Homo sapiens: one gene and its partners. The protein of the gene in region 4 interacts with the protein of the main gene of each other region in a pairwise test. Each region holds a gene or a part of one and is shown on either strand. Other genes may lie near its edges.

Region 1 (5,488 bases), on a different chromosome or scaffold from region 4:
AGAGGAGAAATGGACACATGTCAAGATGTTCACCCATCGTCACTGGTAATACTGACAATCAATCAGTAACTAAGTAAATTATGGTACAGTCACATGTCAGCTCCCTTTTGTGTGAAACAATCCAGTACAGTAATATATCTAACAATTATATACATATGCATATATATATATACAGGGTTCTAGAAGAATATTCATTTAAGTTATAAGCAGTAGAATTACCAGTGCTTTTAATTTTTGTTCTTTTTTTTTTGCATTTTTAAATTTTTCTACATTGGTATACCATATTATGTTTATAATCTGAACAAAGTTTTCTTCATTTTGATAAAAAGAATTAATCAGTAAATAACAAGGCCTAAACTATTAAGACAAGTTTACTCCACTATTTAAAGTAAAAGGAATTAACACTTCAGAAAATAGTCAGAATTTGAATATTAGAAATATACTTTATATTCTGGAAAAAAATCCTGAAATGTATTGTTTTCAAACTTAAAACATATAAATTAAATTTCAAATTAAATTAGGGTAGTTGGCCAGGCGCAGTAACTCACACCTGTAATCCCAGAACTTTGGGAGGCCGAGGCAGGTGGATCACCTGAGGTCAGGAGTTCGAGACCAGCTTGACCAACATGGAGAAACCCCGTCTCTACTAAAAATACAAAATTAGCCGGGCGTGGTGGTGCATGCCTGTAATCCCAGCTACTCAGGAGGCTGAGGCAGGAGAATTGCTTGAACCCGGGAGGCAGAGGTTGCGGTGAACCGAGATCATGCCATTGCACTCCAGCCTGGGCAACAAGAGTGAAACTCCATCTCAAAAAATAAATAAATAAATAAATACATTAGGGTAGTTATGATCTTTTTCCATAAAATAAGTTACTTTCACTAATGCACTTTATAAAGCATGAATCTGAGAGTCCACATTCACATTCACACACATGCATACAATTGATATGACACACAGGTATCTAAGGCCATTCCTCACCTGCATCACTGGTGGAGTCACCTAAAGAAAAAGCACATCAGAAAATTAGCTTTCGTGTAGTCAACCTCAATACATTAAATGATGAGAACAGAATTGGAGAAAAAACACACTGTACATAATTTTGGATGTCTGCTAAGAAAAAAAGATCATTTCCTCATAGCCGCTTTTCTAATGTCCCTATTGCCATTTTGTTTTATTTTCAAAGATAGAAAAACAAAGAGCAAACAAACTGTGCATCATAAAATGGTACTAAATAGAAACAGGACACAGGGATGTGGAGAAAGCACATCGGAGAGGAAGTTAACAAGTTCATGAGACAAGAATCGACAAAGCCAGAGCCACAGAAAAAGTGCATCCAAATGTGAGGGAACGATGCAACAGTCTGAACCCGGCCAACCAAATCCCGGGCCGTTCCAAAGACTGGGAGACAGTCAACAACAGCCCATCTTATAGACATGATTGGTAAGCATTTTTCCATCAGCTCCTGAAAGCAGAAGAAAATCTTCCAGCTCAACAGAGGCCCACCTCTGCACCTTCACCCAGGATCCTTTTTCTTCAAGTGTTGTCTTGAGGACAAATGTGACCTAAACGGTCAAAGTAAATGAGCAGTGGCACCACAGGGGTGGGGTGATTCAAAACCACAGGTGGGAAATCTCTGTTTCACACTCTTAAGATGCACGAACGCATTTGCAGAAGAGCAGAAAGCGCATGGATTCACATGACAGCCCAGCACACTATACGGCAGAGAGGAGGCAGCAGGGCCTGATGCAGCGCCTCGTTTAACACGGCCCCGCCTCAGACAGGAACAGTTCATGCAGCCTCGAGAAATCAGCCTGGGTTATTGTGAGGGTCCACACCGAGCAGAGTGAGGAGCACTCTACAGACACCTCTAGCTCGTTTATTCACAGGAGGACTTTCTGTGAGCATAACAGCCACGAGCTCATAAATGCTGCCTTAAGAGGGTGGCTCTGGCAGGGAGAGAGGGGGCCAAGCTTGTGGATCAAGGGGAACCGGGAGGCTCTAGAGGACTCTATTAGTATGGGCCTGAGAACCTCCAGAGGTCACACCCCACAAAGTGCCACAGCACAGGGGGTAGCCTGGCACCCACCAGGGCCTAGGGGACTGGAGGGCACAGTGGTTAGCAGGGGGCTGGAGAATGTGGTTCCAGATAGTGCCACTACAAGGGCAGTTTCAGAGACCCCAGCACTTTGGGCCAATGGGGGCAGAGGACTCAGCTCAACCCTGGGATGGGACTGCTGGGGACCAAGAGCAGGTGGCAGAAGATCTTTTCCTCATGGCTGTGCGGCCTGGAGCGTGTGCTTAGCAGAAACCAGCACTGAGAGTCCTCGTGCGACCTGGGGGCAGGCAGCAGACACAGTTTCAAATCCCCGGCTCTTTCTTCAAAACACCAGGGTGTTAGGAACAGACCCTGGATTAACACAGCACTCAAAAAGGTGCCTGAGAGGTGCAGTTATTCAACCACAAGGCCGATACCCAGAAGGAAAGTCAGCACAGTGAACTCTCTACCTTTCAATGGATACTTCCAGTCCCCGTTACCCAGAACCCAAGGCACCTGCCACATGGCCCACACCATCCTCCCCGACGCCTGTGCTTCCACAGCGCCAGTGCTCTGCCAGCTCCTGCACTCACAATCTCGTCCTAGGTGACCCAGTCCCCACCCAGGCTCCTGCCATCACCCAGCGCCAGCAACTCTCACAGCTCCTCTCTAGCCTGGGCCTTCCCTCTACGCTCCAGGCCAGCTCCCCCAGCACGTGCCAGCAGCCCTGGAATCCTACCACTTCTCCCCTCCCAGGGCGCCTCCACAGTCCAGGCCTCTCTCTCTTCTCTGCACAATCTTTAACCCTCCCTAATTAACATGGCCACTCTTTAAAATCTAAATATCATTATACTGCTCCTCCTAAAGATATAATTAGCCTCCCGCTGCTCTTCCAATAAAGGCTAAACTCCATAAGCTGGCACAGGGACCTGGCTCTGGCCCTTCCTCTGGGCTGAGCCAGCCCTGCTGCAGTCGCATCCCAGCCGGGATCTTGGTTTATACAGCCCCTTCTGCCCTGCAGGCTTTCTGGGCCACCCTCACCAACCAAGGCCCCTCCCGTCCCAGACTGCCACCCCATCAAACGATTTCGGTTGATCTTCGAGCCTCATCTGCACCAGGAAGGCAGGAGGCCAGCCTGACTTCACTGGCTCATGCGCTCCCAGCCTCAGGGCTGACATGCAGTAGGCCTTCAACAGATAATTTTCTGTTTGAACAAATCAACAAACATCAGCCCTCCCCTGGCCACACCCCACCCTGCCGCTGCCACCTGCACAAGCCTTGGTTACCTGGGCACTGGTACCCTTGCAGGCCTGTTAGGAGCTCCAAGGCCTCAAAACACAAACATTGAATGGCTATTTTACCAAAGTTTTTTTAAAGGCTGAGAAAATTTATGGTGAAAGTAAAATCCCACTGAGGTATAATTCAACACTCAAAGAAAATGACAGACAGAAAAATCATGGTGGCCACAGCACTGTGACCATGAAGTCTGGGGGGTACACCTCTTGACTGGTGGGGCTCTCCAAGTAGTGACCCCGAAACTTTTCAGGGACCACTCATGACACCCCCCAAGTGATGAAACATGCCACCTCCTCTCACTTACAGAGCACGGGGGAGCACACGAGTGGGTCCCATGCTATCAAGAAACCACCATGTTCGATTCTAGTTTATGCAAAAAGGCAGAAGTGAATCACTGTGAATCACTTGCCACGTTCAGACCCAAGAGGAAAACCTCGGGCTCTGGGCTGCGGCCCTTTGAGAAGAAGGTTCTGGAGGGCTCACTCTGCTCTCGCCAGGAAAGGGCGAAACTGGACCATTCTTACCTTTCTGCTTCTCTGTGGGGTTGGGCTGAATATTCTCACACCGCAGACTAGCTGAATTATCATCTGAAATACTAGTTGAGTTAATATTAGCTTCTTTTGTTCCTGACATAAAACAGTTTAAAATTAGTCATTAAGACTGTACACCAAAGGGCCGGTGATCAGCGGCTTCATTAACATAGAGCACACTTACTTATCTATGTTTTCCCACACTGCAAGTTAGGACTGACAAAGGACTGACCAAAGGCAGCTTTTAGAAAACATGCATCTAGAATGTTCCTCCCCCATGGGCGGCTCTGGGGTGAAAGGGAAAGGACACCCCAGACTATGAGTGGATCCTTGGTCTACTCAGGCCAGGAGGAGCAGACTGCCCCCGCCCCCCATTTCTGGAGCTACCTGACACTGCCAGTCTCCACTCACCTCCCCAGTAGAGCCAGACCCAGCAGCTGAGAGGCTGCAAGTAGGCGGCTGTTTCAGGAATGCAGGAAGAAAAGAAAAATATTTTGGACACAGTGCACAGTCCTGGCCATATTGAAAACTTCCACATATTGTCTACTAATTACTGACTGATGTTCCAAAGTTTATGAAGATAGAAAAAATATCAAATACCTGAGAAAATATTTTTGCTGTGAAAAAAAAAACAGGCTGGGCACAGTGGCTCACACCTATAATCCCCGCATTTTGGGAGGCCTAGGTGGGAGGATCACTTGAACCCAGGAGTAAAGACAACCTAGGTAACACAGAGAGAACTCGTCTACACAAAAAAATATAAAATTTAAAAAGCTAGCCAAGCATGGTTACACACACCCGTAGTCCCAGCTACTCAGGAGGCTGAGATGGTAGGATCACTTGAGTCCAGGAGTTTAGGCTGCAATAAGCTGTGATCACGCCACTGCACTCCAGCCCAGGGCAAAGAGTAAGACCCTATCTCGGGGAAAAAAAAAAAAAAAAAAAAGGCCAAGCACAGTGGCTCATGCCTGAAGTCTCAACACTTTAGGAGGCCAAGGCAGGCACCAGCCTGGGCAACATAGCGAAACCTCATATCTACAAAAATTAGCTAGGCATGGTGGCAGGTGCCTGTAGTCCCAGCTACCCAGGAGGCTGAGGCAAGAGAATCACGTGAGCCCAGGAGGTCGAGGCTGCAGTGAGCCATGATCATGCCACCACTCTCCAGCCTGCATGTAAGAGCGAGATCATGTCTGAAAAAAAAAGGGTAGGAGCCAGGTGTGGTGGCTCACGCCTATAATCCCAGCACTTTGGGAGGCTGAGGCCGGTGGATCATGAGCTCAAGAGAGCGAGACCATCCTGGCCAACATGGTGAAACCCCATCTCTACTAAAAATAGAAAAATTAGCCGGGTGTGGTGGCACATGCCTGTAGTCCCAGCCACTCGGGAGGCTAAGGCAGGAGAATCTCTTGGACCCGGGAAGCAGAGGTTGCAGTGAGCGAGATCGTGCCACTGCACTCCAGCCTGGTGACAGAGCCAGACTCTGTCTCAAAAAAAAAAAAATAGGGGGCCCAGATGAGGGGCTAGAGGAATAGGTTCTATATTACAGCAGGACCCAGAGCTGGAAAACTAGCTTCAGTCAAAGGACCTACCACTCTAAAAAGAAACTGAGAGACAAAAATAAAATTG
Region 2 (4,849 bases), on a different chromosome or scaffold from region 4:
TGCAAACTCATCTCACCTGGATTTGATTGAGTCACCTTGAATGACATAACAAATTATGGCTTTGTTTTCATGCGTCATGCAATCTTCCGGACTACGGGAAGTTCTGCAAGTGTTCTCCAGGGGCATTTCATTAATAGCGTGTCAGCATTAGTTTTAATGAATGAACATTTGAGGTACATTCTATAAATCAATATCCTTAAAATGTCATCTGCTAAACATTCACTGTGACAGAAAGTAGATATTTTAGCAAGATCTATGTTAATGCTACTTAATTTTAGACATGCATTTAAAGCCTACATGGCCAATAGCCCAAGTATCTTTGAACTGTGAAATCAACCTCAGATCTCATCTGCTGTAGCCCCGCAAGCCGGAGTCTGTGCCCTCCATGACCCTTCTTATCCCTTGGTGGCCCTGCATAGATAGGGGAGTTGGCCCCTGCCCACCCCGTGTTGTATTGCCTTAGCTCCATCAGCTTTGTACCCTCACACGTATAGGTGGTGAACTTATGTGTAAATACATGTGTACAGATGAGAAACTGCAACAAAAATGTCCTGTGGATGATAATCAGCTCAGTTTCCGGTTTTCTACATTCTGTGCTGTTTCCAGCTAAGAAAAAGGCGAACTCCCACTATATAAAGGGAAAAGGTTGTATTCATTTCATGTTCCTCATGAAATCTCTGCTGTATGTTTATGGAATGGCCATGACTAAATGTATATATGGTATGTAAGAGGCCATGCTGTTAAATGTTGCATAAACTAACACAGATTCTGTAGTCAAAAATATTTAACTTGTTATTGTAAAATGTGATTTGTCATTGAGAGATTATTTTTCTGTATGTATATGAGAGTATTTTAGGAATCTAATTTAAGTGCATAAAACTATAGAAAAAAATTTAAAACCTATTCCAAGAGTAGAAAATGCTTAATGAGATTACTTGGGTTCAACTCAACTAAATTTCTTATATTAAAAAAAAATTCCAAGTTGTATATGTTAGAAATCAAATGAGTCATTTTTTTTCCTGCAGGAAATATGATAAATTTCAGTGTAATGGATGGTGGCGTGATCAAATGAAAAGTATCCTGTAGCTATGACCTCGCATGGGACCTTGGTGTTGCATTAAAAATGGATTTTTGCAGATCACATATCTGAGAGGGTACTTGTGTCAGGAAGGATGAGAGGATAGGGAGCCTGTTTTTCATCAGATCCATGTGCCACGCAGGCTTCCTTGGGTTCTAGTGGATTTGTTAGGGATCTGGGGCTGACGCAGCTATCCCACTAGAGAGGCCACTCTCTGACTTCCAGGTCGCCCTTTCTACTTCTGTATCTGGATTGATTCAGTTTATCCCTAATTAGCGTTTGCGTTTTCCATGAAATTTCCTGATGCATCCTCACTGTCTTCAACTGTTGCATAGCCAGGTGGGTGGATGGATGGTTTAGGGTTTCTGAGTTAAGCCGTTTTGGGGCAGGCTTCTGGATGCCCATGTTTCCATGGAGACCCCAGGGGGAAGATGCCTTCCTCCCGTCTGCATTCCCAGAAAAGGATCAGAAGTCCAGGCTGCTTCTGGGGCACAGACTTTCTGTACTTGGCCACCAGAAGTGCCCCTTAGGCCACCTAAGGAGGATTCTGTGAAACTCAATGTCTAAACCCCTGAGAAAGGCATTCAGAAATGATTTCAGGAGGGGGCAACCCCAGGAGTCCAGCCTCCCCTGGCAGCCTGGAAATACTGCAGTAACAAAAAGAGCTGGTTTCTGGTGATCTGAATGCATTGTGTTTGGGGGTGACACCGCTGGTGGAAGGTTGAGGGCCTGTGGTCTGAAAAGACATCTGAAGAATGTGTTAGGTTTTCAACATTTCTTTGAACAGGCTGCGTGCATCTTAATGCTGTCAACCAGCAACTGGAGCCCCTTTTTTGAGAGGCCCGAACCAGTAAAGCTGCTGACTTCAGGAGTATGGGAAGCTGTGATTTCTGGAAGCTTCCTGGAATCTATTTAGGTGCATGAATAATCTGCAAATCACTTAGAGGCACTGTCCATGTGGTCCATAACTGGCTTTATTCCCAAAGATGGAGCTGTTCAGAGATTTCTTTGTTCAGGCGCAGCCTTGGAAGGCCACCTAAGGCCTGCCAGCAGAGGAGATGAGCTCTGGTCTACCAACCCCAAACAGGCCCTGACTCTCCTTCCTTAGAACGATGCCCTCTGGCTGGGGTGGCAAGAGGGCTGTGAGTGGAAACAAGTCAGCCAGTCAACTGTCCCTTGGGCCTTGGTTGTTTCAAAAAAGTCTGGGGACAAGAAAAGCTAGAACATGGGGCCCTCCCTTCCCAGGAGTGCTAGCGAACCCTCCCAGATAGCCTTTGCCTGTTTGGAAAAGAATGTAATCCATCAGAACGTGAGCTCCTTGTGCTTCCAGTGACAAGCGGGCCACAGTGCTGGTGGCATGTTGCTTCCCTCACAGCCCTGCCCAGGGGTAGGACCAGGCCCGCCCCTTGATGGATGTGCTGTTGATTGTAATATACTTCTGTTGCCAAATAATGGTACTGTTTAATTTTCCATAAAAGAGAGACTATATTGTCTGATATGTAATGTTAATGGAATTCTAAGAATTACTAGACACTATTATAAATTGTAGACTTACGTATTTGTCTAAAGGTTTGATGAAGCAGGGCCAAAACATTGTTTCTTCTTTTTTGTTTGAAAGAAGCTGAGGTTTGTTTTTGCTGTTTGAGTGTTCCTTTGGCAACTTATTATGTGTGAAATGTTAAATTTTACCGATTAAGATGATGGTAACTGAGACCTTTCTTTAAACCAGTAGCAACATCAGTACAAATTGCTCTTCCTGTGTATCTTGAACCTAAAAAGAACAATCTCTTCAAAAACAAAAACAAAAACAAAAAACAACTCTTTGGTCATTTTGACCTGTGTGGTTTAAATTCAAATAGTTCATGAATAAAAGGAGAAAAGCCAATCTGTTATAGTGGATTATTTTGGGTTCTTTCTGCTTCACTCTTTTCTGAGAGCACAGGAAGCTAACAGCCCTGCAAATGGTGTCTCTTCCTCTTCCCACAGATAAGATTGTAGCTGTGCAAGGAAAATTGTGCAGAAATAAACCTAGAAAACAAAACCAACCAACAACCCTTTCAGCTGTCCTGCGGCTTCAGATAAATGTTAGCTAACACCAAGCAGAAATAGATTTCTGTGTACGAAGTCTTTGTGAGAACAGGAGAAGTTTTGTGTTGTACAGCATAAGAAATTCTGAGGGTGGGGTTGAGAGGGCGGTGCAAAAAGCTGATTTTCTTATAAAGACATTCAGAAGGGTCGCTGAATTTCCAGGAAGAAGTTTCTAACACACGTAACTCCACGTGTTCAGCACTTGGGTGATCTATAATTCTGCGTTCCATAAAACCCAACGCTGAATTGTATTAGGTTGTTTCCTCCTGTTCTGGTTTTAAGGCCATTCCTACCTATTTCATCACTGATTTAACTGACTATAAATAAGTCCTTTAAATTCTCTAGCTGGCTTGGACACTAGTTGAATTGTGACATAGCACATTTTTAAAAAGTTGACCCTACAGCAGTATGTCTTTGCCTTTTTAAAACTAGTATGCCCCATTTTTGAAGAACATAAAATCGTATGCCCTTTTCTTGGTTGTTATTTGAAGTTTTAAAAATAAGTTAAGGCTGGATGTGGTGGCTCACACCTGTAATCCCAGTGCTTTGGGAGGCTGAGGCAGGAGGATTGCTTGCATCCAGAAGTTCAAGACCAGCCTGAGCAACATAGTGAGACCTTGTCTTTACAAAAAATAAATCAGCCAGGCATGGTGGCACATGCTCATGGTCCCGGGTATTTGGGAGGCTGAGGCAGGAGGATCTCTTGAGTCCAGGAGGCCAAGGCTGCAGTGAGCCATGATTGTGCCACTGCACTCCAGTCTGGGTGACAGAGTGAGACCCTGTCTTAAAAATAAAAAGTTAAATGCCATTAAAAACAAATGCAATAATTAACTTTCCCAACTATACCTAGTTCTCTCCAAGTCTGATGAGGGCCCCCTCACACAGACCAGAGAGTGGATGGAATCACTAGTACAAAACATGTAATTATTACCTATTTAACCACGGTTAGTAGCCAGCATAATCAAGGCAATACTTTTTATTCTCAAATATTTAGTTTTTCTTCTTGTTACAGAAGTAATACTTGTTAATGCAGAAAATTCAGCAAGGAAAGAAAAACACAAAGGAAATAAAATCACTTAATGGAGATGTTCTTCTACACAAAAATAAAGGTTTTGATGCACTTCATTTCTGTATTTTTTGTGTGTGTGTGCATTTTAAATACTCTTGTACTATTTATTTATTTATGAGACGGAGTCTTGCTCTTGTCACCCTGGCTGCGCTCGGCCTCTTGTACTATTTAATAGCTAATATGCATCGAAAATATCCCATATACAAGGGACTGTAAAACTTTCACCTTGATTTTAAAAAAATACTGTGAAGAAAATCATTGTAGGCTGGGTGTGGTGGCTCAAGCCTATAATCCCAGCACTTTGGGAGGCTGAGGCCAGTGATCACTTGAGCCCAGGAGTTTAAAGCCAGCCTGAGCATCATGGCAAGATCCTGTCTCTACTATAAATATGAAAACTAGCTGGGTGTGGTCGCACTGCCTCTAGTTTCACTGCCTGTAGTTTCAGCTGAGGTGGGAGGATGGTTTGAGCCCAGGAGGTTGAGGTTGCAGTGAGCCATGGTCGTGCCACTGCACTCCAGCCTGAGTGATGGCGTGAGACTGTCTCAAAAAACAAAACAAATCATTGTACATAGATCTCTAGGTTCTCTCTGGTGACCTCGTAAGGCGACATATGA
Region 3 (5,488 bases), on a different chromosome or scaffold from region 4:
GCATCGCTGGCTCTGACGTCTCCAAGCAGGCAGCTGACATGATCCTGCTGGACGACAACTTTGCCTCCATCGTCACAGGGGTGGAGGAGGGTGAGTTGGCCAGGGGTGGCCCTGGAGACCAGGGTCACTACCGGAGGCCTGAGACCAGCAAGGGGAACTGGCCAGGGCTGCAGGGGGATGTGTGGCAGAGACCACAGGCCCCCTGGCCCTGGAGGAGCCTGAGCCTGTCCTTTTCTGTCTTCCTCCCCTGTGGGGTCGGGAGCTCCCCTGGGCAGGACTGAGCTGACACACTTCAGGGTCCCTGCGTCATCCAGCCCAGGCCCCATCTGGTGGGTGAAGCTGACTTGGAGGCTTTTTAAAGATATTCTCAGCCAGGGGCGGCAGCCACGCCTGTAATCCCAGCACTTTGGAAGGCTGAAGCAGGCAGATCATGAGGTCAGAAGATCGAGACCATCCTGGCTAACATGGTGAAACCCCGTCTCTACTAAAAATACAAAAAATTAGCCGGGCATTGTGGCGGTTGCCTGTAGTCCCAGCTACTCGGGAGGCTGAGGCAGGAGAATTGCTTGAACCCAGGAGGTGGAGGTTGCAGTGAGCTGAGATTGCGCCACAGCACTCCAGCCTGGGGGACAGAGCGAGACTCCGTCTCAAAAAAAAAAAAAAATTCTCAAGCCCAACCAGGGGGAAGCCAGGGACCCTGGGGGATACCCCCTCTGCCAGCCTGGGCTGGGGGTCAAGGGAGCTTCCCAGAGTGGACAGGGATGGCTGAGCCAAGTCAGGGGCCATGCTGTGACGTCCACATAGACTAGTGCCAGGGAGTCGCAGGCAGAGGAACCGGTACACAGGCAAGGCGGTGTGAGGGGCTGGGTCTGAGGCTGGTGCTGCTGAGCCGACAGGCACCACCTCCTGACAGGCCCAGACAAGGCCACAGAAGGGTTGGTTCACATTCAGATTTATTTTGATCATCAAATTAATTCATGATAATCATAGACAAATGCAGAAAAGCATTCAGGAAAAAAGTAGAATCACCCGTAACCTCGCCATCCAGAAATAATCACGGTTCATGCCTTGGTGGATTTTCTTCCAATTTCTCTCTCCTATTTGAAATGTCTCTGGTGTAAAAAGTAGTTCATGGTAAAAGAGAATTCAAACGGCAAAGCCGAGCCCAGAGTAACAGATTAAATGTCCTCAGCCCTTGTCTCCTATATCCCAGAGGAAACCATGGTTAACACCTTCTTATCTCCCAAGAGACATCTTTTTTTGGGGGCTGGGGGCGGGGATAGAGTCTCAATCTGTCACCCAGGATGGAGTGCAGTGGCACAATCACGGCTAACTGCAGCCTCCACCTCCGGGACTTAATCGATCCTCCTGCCTCAGGCCCCTAAGTAGCTGAGACTACAGGTATGCACCATCACACCTGGCTGATTTTTAAGATTTTGTAGAGATGGGGTTTCGCCATGTTGCCCAGACTAGTCTTTCTTTTTTTTTGAGACAGAGTCTTGCTCTGTCACCCAGGCTGGAGTACAGGCATGCAATCTCGGCTTACTGTAGCCTCCACCTCCTGGGTTCAAGCAATTCTCCTGCTTCAGCCTCCCGAGTAGCTAGAATTACAGGTGCATGCCACCACACCAGGCTAATTTTTGTATTTTTAGTAGAGATGGGGTTTCACCATGTTAGCCAGGCTGGTCTTGATCTCCTGACCTGAAGTGATCCCCGCACCTTGGCCTCCCAAAGTGCTGGGATTGCAGGGGTGAGCCACCTCGCCCAGCGAGGTCTTCAACTCCTGGGCTCAAGCAATCCTCCCACCTTGGCCTCCCAATTTGCTGGGATTACAGGCATGAGCCACCACGCCTGGCCTCCCCAAGACATCTATGCATACACAGTACACACACTGTCTCAGATACAGCCGTCTGCTCCTTCCGAATCTTGTGCATCATGCTGGAAGCCTGGGAGGCAGCTGTGAGCAGAGCAGACACCATCCCTGTTCTCACAGGGCTGGAGAGACAGCCTTAAACAAGTTAACAGATATGTAATTACAAATTGTGATATATGCCCCGAAGAAAGCAGGCCGCTGTGATAGATAATAGTGAGGGTCCTGCCCAGATGGGGTGGACAGGGAAGGCCTCTCTGAAGTGAGGGAAGAAATACCTAACTTCCGTCAGGGGCCAGGCACGGGGGCTCACGCCTGTAATCCCAGCACTTTGGGAGACCAAGGCGGGAGGATCGCTTGAGCCCAGGAGTTCAAGACCTGCCTGTACAACAAATTAAGACCTCAAAGATCAAAAAATTTTAAAAATTAGCAGGGCGTGGTGTTGCACACCTGTAGTCTCAGAGACTTGGGGGGCTGAGGCAGGAGGATCACTTGAGCCTGGGTGGTCGAGGCTGCCATGAACCATGATGGTGCCACTGCACTCCAGCCTGGGATAGAGCGAGATCCGAGACCCTGTCTCAAACAAACAAACAAAATAACTTCCAACGGGGGCATTCCAGATATACCCAAAAGTAAAGCAAAGGCACAGTGGGCCCCTGCGCCTCCATCCCACCTGCAGCGGCAGTCAGCGCACGGCACACCTTGTTTCTTCCCCACCACCTGGAACACACACTGGATTATGCTGATGCACATTTGTCACCATTTCATCCATAAATAGTTTAGGATGAGAAACCCCTAGTTTGTGGAGAAGAGCACAATGCAGGGAACGAGAATATCAGGTGGGAGCGGCCCAGGCCCTTATTGCTATGCAAGAGACATCAAAGCAATCAAAGAAGCCACACCACAGGCAGCCTGCTTCACCTTCCCTTCCCTCCCTCCCTCCCTTCCTCCCTCCCTCCGTCCCTGCCTGCCTGCCTTCCTTCCTTCTTTCCTTCCTTCCTTCCTTCCTTCCTTCCTTCCTTCCTTCCTTCCTTCCTTCCTTCCCCTTCCTTCCTTCCTTCCCCCTCCCCTCCCCTCCCCTTTTTTTGATGGAGTCTTGCTCTGTTGCCAGGCTGGAGTGCAGTGGCGTGATGTTGGCTCACTGCAACCTCCACCTCCCAGCTTCAAGCGATTCTTCTGCCTCAGCTTCCCACATAGCTGGAACTACAGGCACACACCACCACTCCCAGCTAATTTTTTGTGTTTTAGTAGAGATGGGGTTTCACCATGTTGGCCAGGATAGTCTCGATCTCCTGACCTCGTGATCCACCCGCCTCAGCCTCCCAAAGTGCTGGGATTACAGGTGTTTGCCACCGTGCCCGCCTGTTCTTTCTTAATGATTGACCTCATTGTTCATGGGCTAATCTTTTTACTTATTTATTTATTTAGAGACAAGGTCTCACTCTGTTGCCCAGGCTGGAGCGCAGTGCTGCAATCATCAGTCACTGCAACCTCGACCTCCTCAAGTGATCCTCCCACCTCAGCCTCCCAAGTAGCTGCGACCACAGGCTCGAGCCACCGTGCCTGACTAATGTTTATTTTATTTTATTTTATTTTTTTGAGATGGAGTCTTGCTCTGTTGCCCAGGCTGGAGTGCAATGGCACAATTGCGGCTCACTGCAACGTCTGCCTCTGAGGTTCAAATGATTCTCCTGCCTCAGCCTCCCAAGTAGCTGGGGTTACAGGTGCCCACCACCACGCCCAGCTAATTTTTGTATTTTTAGTAGAGATGGGGTTTCATCATGTTGGCCAGGCTGGTCTTGAACTCTTGATCTCAGGCAATCCTCCTGCTTCGGTCTCCCAAAGTGTTGGGATTACAGGTGTGAGCCCCAGCGCCTGGCCTGGATTAATCTTTATTTTGTTTACTTTAGACAACCTGTACTGGTTGAATATTTATTGAGATATGGCATGCATACAGTGAGTTGGGCATATTATATCTCATTAAAATATTCAACCAGACAGGGTGTATAAATTTTTACACATGTACACAGCCATGCAACCACCAGACCCCAGTCAAGATAGAAAACCATTCCAGCCCCCCATTTAGGTTTTGTCTGCTCTCTTCCAGTCTATATCCCTCCTCCTAGACATAACCATTATCCTGACTTTTAGCCCAGAGACGGGTGCTGAGCCTGCTCCAGTTGGAGTTGGATGCTAAGAATGCTTTTGTGTCTGGCTCGTGTCACTCAGCACGGGATCCAAGGTCCAGCTGTGGAGTTGTGTCCGTAGCTCGCCCCTTCTTGCTGTGTAGTATTTGACTGCATGGATGTACCGTGGTTTATTCATCCCTCACCTGTTGATGGACATGGGGTTGACTCTGGCTTTTGGCTCTGATGAGTGGTGCTATGGTGAACATTCTCGTACTTGCTTTTCGCTGGGCATAAACAGTCCTCCTCTCTTTTGGGTATAAAACCTAGGAGTCGGATTACTCGGTCGGTGGGGTGGGGGATGTTTGATAGCAACTCCGAAACCATCTTCCAAAGTGGTTATTTCAAGAATGTTTCCACAAAGGCGATGTGGTTGGATGTTTATGTGGAAAGGTAGGTGGGTGAGGGGCCAGGTGTGGAGACTTATGCCTGTAATCCCAGCACTTCGGGAGGCTGAGATGGAATCACAGCCCAGAAATTAGACAAGCCTAGGAAAAGTGGTGAGACTCTGTCTCTACTAAAAATACAAAAATTAGCTGGACGTGGTGGCGCGTGACTGTAGTCTCAGCTACATGGGAGGCTGAGGCAGGAGGATCACTTGAGCCTGGGAGTCGAGGTTGCAGTGAGCCGTGATCATGCCACTGCACTGCAGCCTGGGCAACAGAGTGAGACCCTGTCCCAAAAAGAAAATAATGGTGGGTGGGCTGGGGGGTAGAAAAGGACGCTGGACAGGCCGGGCGCGGTGGCTCACGCCTGTAATCCCAGCACTTCAGGAGGCCGAGGAGGGCAGATCACGAGGTCAGGAGATTGAGACCATGCAGGCTAACACAGTGAAACCCCGTCTCTAATAAAAATACAAAAAAATTAGCCGGGCGTGGTGGCAGGTGCCTGTAGTGCCAGCTACTCGGGAGGCTGAGGCAGGAGAATGGCGTGAACCCGGGAGGCGGAGCCTGCAGTGAGCCGAGATCGCACCACTGCACTCCAGCCTGGGCAACACAGCGAGACTCTGTCTCAAAAAAAAAAAAAAAAAAAAAAAGGACGTTGGATGAGGGCAGAGGAGGGGCAGAGGGAGTGGGGCTCCCTGGCATGGGCGCCTGCTCTGAGCCTGCCTGTGCCACAGGCCGCCTGATCTTCGACAACCTAAAGAAGTCCATTGCCTACACCCTGACCAGCAATATCCCGGAGATCACGCCCTTCCTGCTGTTCATCATGGCCAACATCCCGCTGCCCCTGGGCACCATCACCATCCTCTGCATCGATCTGGGCACTGACATGGTGAGCCCTGGCAGCCACCCTTGGGGCCCAGGAGGGTGGAGTCCTCCCCTCTCCGGCTCACCCGGCCTCCTCCGCCTAGGTCCCTGCCATCTCACTGGCGTACGAGGCTGCCGAAAGCGACATCATGAAGAGACAGCCCAGGAACCCGCGGACGGAC
Region 4 (5,488 bases):
CTTACACAGAAAAGAAGGTAGAAATATCTGATCCTAGAAGGAAGAATCAGGTAAATCCAGTGGCTAAAAGTTACCAGGAATTGCTGGGCATGGTGGCTCAATGCCTGTAATCCCAACACTTTGGGAGGCTGAAGAGGGCGGATCACTTGAGGTCAGGAGTTTGAGACCAGCCTGGCCAACATGGTAAAACCCCATCTCTACTAAAAATACAAAAATCAGCTGAGTGTGATGGCACGTGTCTGTAGTCCCACCTACCTGGGAGGTGGAGGCTGAAATGGCACCACTGCACTCCAGCCTGGGTGACAGAGCAAGACTCCATCTCAAAGAAAAAAAAAAGTTATAAGGAAGGTTTTACCTCAACATTATAATTTTATTAGAACTGGGCTGGGCGCAGTGGCTCATGCCTATAATCCCAGCACTTTGGGAGGCCGAGGCGGGCAGATCATGAGGTCAGGAGTTTGAGAACAGCCTGACTAACATGGTGAAACCCCATCTCCACTAAAAATACAAAAATTAGCCGGGCGTGGTGGTATGTGTGCCTATAATCCCAGCTGCTCAGGAGGCTGAGGCAGGAGAATCACTTGAACCTGGGAGGTGGAGGCTGCAGTGAGCCAAGATCGCACCACTGCATTCCAGCCTGGCAACAGAGCAAGACTCCGTCTCAAAAAAAAAAGGCGTGGTGGTGCTACTTGGGAGGCTGAGGCAAGAGAATCGCATGAACTGGGGGACAGAGGTTGCAGTGAGCCGACATCACGCTATTGCACTCCAGCCTCGGCAATACAGCGGGACTCCATCTCAAAAAAAAAAAATTATTATAATTGTGGAACAAACAGTGGTGCCTCAGGTATGTCGAGTCCTTGGAGCTGCATAAGCAGAGACCATATGGTGATGTCGCTGGGATGCTGGCAGGGGATCTACACCGTGGTTGGGTGTGTGGAGGGGTGGATTGACAGAGTGGAGGGAGCAGACGAATGGCTGCTGACATCTAAGAACCTGAGGTAGTCTAGGCCCATGGCTGCTGGCTCCAGAATTGCACCATCCTGGGATTGTGGCTGCCCTTTCACTTTCAATCATTTCTTTTGCAGGAAAACAAGAGTAGAGGCCAATTCTCCTCTTCCAAAGAACTCTGGATCCCTAAATGAGGCAGAAGCCTTGAACCCAGAAGTTACTCTATCTTCAGAGGGGTCCTTAAACCTCGAAGACATTCTCTACCTGGAGGACACAGGTGACCTTGATGAGACACTCTATGTGCAAGAGACTGAGAAGGCAGAGGAGGCCCTGTATATTGAGGAGGCCATGCAGCCAGATGAGGCTCTGCATGTGGAGGAGCCTGGGAATCCAGAGGAGACAGTGTGTGTGGAGGAAACCACGGAGCCAGATCGGATACAGTTTGTGGAGGGGCCCGTGGAGCCAGGAAAGCCCACAAGCCCAGAGCACGTTGTTTATGAGGGAGAGACAGTCACAAGGGCGGAGAAATCTAACCCTGAGGAGAGCCTCAGAGCCGAGCAGAGCCCCAGCATGGAGGAGAACCTGAGCATAGAGGACCTGGAATTGCTAGAGGGGCGTTTCCAGCAGTGTGTCCAAGCTGTGGCCCAGCTGGAAGAGGAGAGGGATCAGCTCATCCATGAGCTTGTATTGCTCCGGGAACCAGCCCTGCAGGAGGTACAGCAAGTCCATCAAGACATCCTGGCTGCCTACAAGCTCCATGCCCAAGCAGAGCTGGAGAGAGATGGCCTAAGGGAGGAGATCCGGCTGGTCAAGCAGAAGCTTTTCAAAGTGACAAAGGAATGTGTGGCCTACCAATACCAGCTGGAGTGCCGCCAGCAGGACGTGGCTCAGTTTGCCGATTTCCGGGAAGTGCTGACTACAAGGGCAACCCAGCTCTCAGAGGAACTGGCCCAGCTCCGGGATGCCTATCAGAAGCAGAAGGAGCAGCTGCGGCAACAACTAGAAGCCCCTCCAAGCCAGAGGGATGGGCACTTTCTCCAGGAAAGCCGGCGACTCTCTGCCCAGTTTGAAAATCTCATGGCAGAGAGCCGCCAGGACCTGGAGGAGGAGTATGAGCCTCAGTTCCTGCGGCTCCTAGAGAGGAAAGAAGCTGGGACCAAAGCTCTGCAGAGAACCCAGGCTGAGATCCAGGAAATGAAGGAGGCTCTGAGACCCCTGCAAGCAGAGGCCCGGCAGCTCCGCCTGCAAAACAGGAACCTGGAGGACCAGATCGCACTTGTGAGGCAAAAACGAGATGAAGAGGTGCAGCAGTACAGGGTAGGCCCATTGGGCATGAAAAGAACTGAGGTCTTTTAACCTGGGGAAAGAGTGGCCAGAGTCCAAGGTCTTTGGGGCTGAAAGATAGTGTCACATGTAGGAAGAAAAATTTGTTCTTTGGGGCCACGCAATTTTTTCTCCATTCTTCATTCATTCAGGCCCATGCTAGGGACTAGAAGTTATCTGCACTGTTTTTTGTTTTTTTTTTTTTGAGATGGAGTCTCGCTCTGTCGCCCAGGCTAGAGTGCAGTGGTGCGATCTCAGCTCACTACAAGCTCTGCCTCCTGGGTTCATGCCATTCTCCTGCCTCAGCCTTCTGAGTAGCTGGGACTACAGGTGCTCACCACCATGCCCGGCTATTTTTTTGTATTTTTAGTAGAGTCGGGGTTTCACTGTTGTTAACCAGGATGGTCTGGATCTCCTGACCTCGTGATCCGCCTGCCTTGGCCTCCCAAAGTGCTGGGATTACAGGTGTGAGCCACCGCGCCCGGCCTGCACTCTGTTTTTTTTGCGACAGGGTCTTGCTGTCACTTAGGCTGGTGCAGTGGCATGATCACAGCTAACTGCAGCCTCGACCTCTCAGGTTCAAGCGATCCTCCCACCTCAGCCTCTTGAGTAGCTGGGACCACAACTGTGCACCAACATGCCCAGCTAATTTTTTCTTTTTTGAGACAGGTGCAATCTTGAGGGCTCACTGCACCTCAAACCTCTTGGGCTCAAGCGATCCTCCTGCCTTAGCCCCCAAGCAGCTGGGACTACAAGTGTGTGCCACCATACCTGGCTAATTTTTTGTAGAGACAGGGTTTCACCACGTGGCCCAGGCTGGATTTGAACTCCTGAGCTCAAGCTATCCGCCTGCCTTGGCCTCCCAAAGAGCTAGGATTATAGGTGTGAGCCACCGCAGCCGGCCAATTTTTGTATTTTTTGTAGACAGGGTTTTGCCATGTTGCCCAGGCTGGTCTTGAAATCCTGGGCTCAAGTACTTTTAATGGCAAAAGCTGCAATTAATTTTGCACCAACCTTAATAGAATCCTCTCATCTTCACTTTCCTTTTATGTGCATTTGTCCCCATCTCTCTTGCATTCAAGTTATTTCTGATTAAGTGTGAGCCAGTTCTAATCCCTTTTTAGAACAGAGTGGGATATAAATACTAAGTGAATAAACAATTACGTAGTCCCTCCTAGACTGTGAACTTTCAGAAGGTAGGGAATACATTTTACTTATTGTTGTATTACTCTCTGCTACTCAAGGCTCAGAGCACATGTGCTGCTGGGCACTAATGAGAAGACTGTAGTGTGGTGCTCTAAGCAGTACTTTAATCTTTTGAAACACTGATTCCTTTGGATAAACTTAGAAATCTATGTCTTCCCAGAGATTGTGATATGCCCTTAAGGGAACAAGTTTCCCTGTTGAAATGGCTGCATTCACTTCACTGAAGATTTTGTCAAGCTTTCTGTAGTTTGTATTATGAAAACACTCTGTCTGGGAGCGGTGGCTCACGCCTGTAATCCCAGCACTTTGGTTGGGAGGCTGAGGTGGGTGGATCACAAGGTCAGTAGTTTGAGACAAGTATAGCCAATATGGTGAAACCCCGTCTCTACTAAAAAGACAAAAATTAGGGGGGCATGGTGGCACATGCCTGTAGTCCCAGCTACTTGGGAGGCTGAGGCAGGAGAATCGCTTGAACCCGGGAGGCGGAGGTTGCAGTGAGCTGAGATTGCACCACTGCACTCTAGCCTGGGTGACAGAGTGAGACTCCATCTCAAAAACAAACAAAAACAAACAAACAAAAAAAAAACACTGTGGTTTTTGGGGTCATAATACTGAATGTTTTTTATTTTTATCTTTATTTATTTATTTTTGAGACAGAGTCTTGCTCTTTCACCCAGGCTGGAGTGCACTGAACCAATCTCGGCTCACTGCAAACTCCACCTCCCGGGTTCAAGCAATTCTCATTTCAGCCTCCTGAGTTGCTGGGACTACAGGTGCCCGCCACTGCACCCAGCTAATTTTTTGTATTTTAGTAGAGATGGGGTTTCACCATGTTGCCCAGGGTGGTCTCAAACTCCTGAGCTTAGGCAGTCCACCCGCCTCAGCCTCCCAGTTATTTTTACAGAGTCTCGCTCTGTCACACAGGCTGGAGTGCAGTGGAGTGCAGTGGCATGATCTCAGCTCACTGCAACCTCTGCCTCCTGGGTTCAAGCAATCCTCCTGCCTCAGTCTCCCAAGTTGCTGGGATTGCAGACCTGTGCCACCATGCCCAGCTAATTTGGGTATTTTAGTAGAGATGGGGTTTCACCATGTTGGTCAGGCTGGTCTCGAACACCTGACCTCAGGTGATCCACCGGCCTCAGCCTCCCAGTGTTGGGATTACAGGCGTAAGCCACCACACCCAGAAGTAATACTGAATGTTTTTAAACTCTTCATATTCCCCTTACCCTATTTTTTAAAAAATTGGTTCACAGTCTAGTGAAAAGTCATTTATTTAGCATCAATACTATCCTTAACAGCCAATACTCAGACAGACATTACATTAATAGTTGTATCTCAGAGAAGAAAGTAATAGGTGATTTATGAGAGGTGCAGGTAAAAGGGCTGTGGGATAGATGATGATGATGATGATGATTATTATTTTTTGAGACGGAGTCTGTCACTCTTGCCCAGGCTGGAGTGCAGTGGCGCTCAGCTCACTGCAAGCTCTGCCTCCCGGGTTCGCGCCATTGTCCTGCCTCAGCCTCCCGAGTAGCTGGGATTGCAGGCGCCCGCCACCGCACCAGGCTAATTTTTTGCATTTTTAATAGAGACGGGGTTTCACCGTGTTAGCCAGGATGGTCTCCATCTCCTGATCTTGTGATCCGCCCGCCTCGCCTCTCAAAGTGCTGGGATTACAGGCATGAGCCACTGCGCCCGGCCGGGATAGATTATTTTTAGGCGCTGGTTAAATCAGAGAACTCTTCATGAAAAAAGAGGTGGAATTTGAGCTAGGTATGAAAGCATAGGGAGAATCTAGACCAGTGCTGCCCAACAGAAATATAATGCAAGTCACATAAATAATTACAAATTTTCTAATAGCCACATTAAAATAGGCAAAAATTCAGCTGAGCTAAGCCTGAGGGGAGCAGGGGAGAAAAGATATAGGTAAAATTAATTTAAATATATTTTATCTAACTCAACATATCTGAAATATAATTAGTAACTTGGCTGCAGGTGACAAGCTTGAGTT

The links.
Region 1: the proteins of SYNC (region 4) and TRAF3IP1 interact in a two-hybrid assay, tested with the Homo sapiens proteins (one large-scale study listed by IntAct).
Region 2: the proteins of SYNC (region 4) and ITSN1 interact in a two-hybrid assay, tested with the Homo sapiens proteins (one large-scale study listed by BioGRID and IntAct).
Region 3: the proteins of SYNC (region 4) and ATP1A3 interact in binary tests that used the Homo sapiens proteins (3 or more experiments, as listed by UniProt).

Annotation. Positions count from the first base shown.
Region 1 is NC_000002.12:238,342,967-238,348,454, reverse strand, and holds part of TRAF3IP1 (TRAF3-interacting protein 1), read right to left. Parts: intron 4,655-5,488; exon of another isoform or gene 4,401-4,654; coding exon of another isoform or gene 4,274-4,400; intron 3,959-4,273; coding exon 3,857-3,958; intron 1,001-3,856; coding exon 980-1,000; intron 1-979.
Region 2 is NC_000021.9:33,896,899-33,901,747, forward strand, and holds the end of ITSN1 (intersectin-1), read left to right. Parts: 3' UTR 1-2,963; downstream 2,964-4,849. UniProt on the Homo sapiens protein: Adapter protein that provides a link between the endocytic membrane traffic and the actin assembly machinery. Acts as a guanine nucleotide exchange factor (GEF) for CDC42, and thereby stimulates actin nucleation mediated by WASL and the ARP2/3 complex.
Region 3 is NC_000019.10:41,970,231-41,975,718, reverse strand, and holds part of ATP1A3 (sodium/potassium-transporting ATPase subunit alpha-3), read left to right. Parts: coding exon 1-90; intron 91-5,176; coding exon 5,177-5,331; intron 5,332-5,410; coding exon 5,411-5,488. UniProt on the Homo sapiens protein: This is the catalytic component of the active enzyme, which catalyzes the hydrolysis of ATP coupled with the exchange of sodium and potassium ions across the plasma membrane.
Region 4 is NC_000001.11:32,691,642-32,697,129, reverse strand, and holds part of SYNC (syncoilin), read left to right. Parts: intron 1-1,085; coding exon 1,086-2,265; intron 2,266-5,488.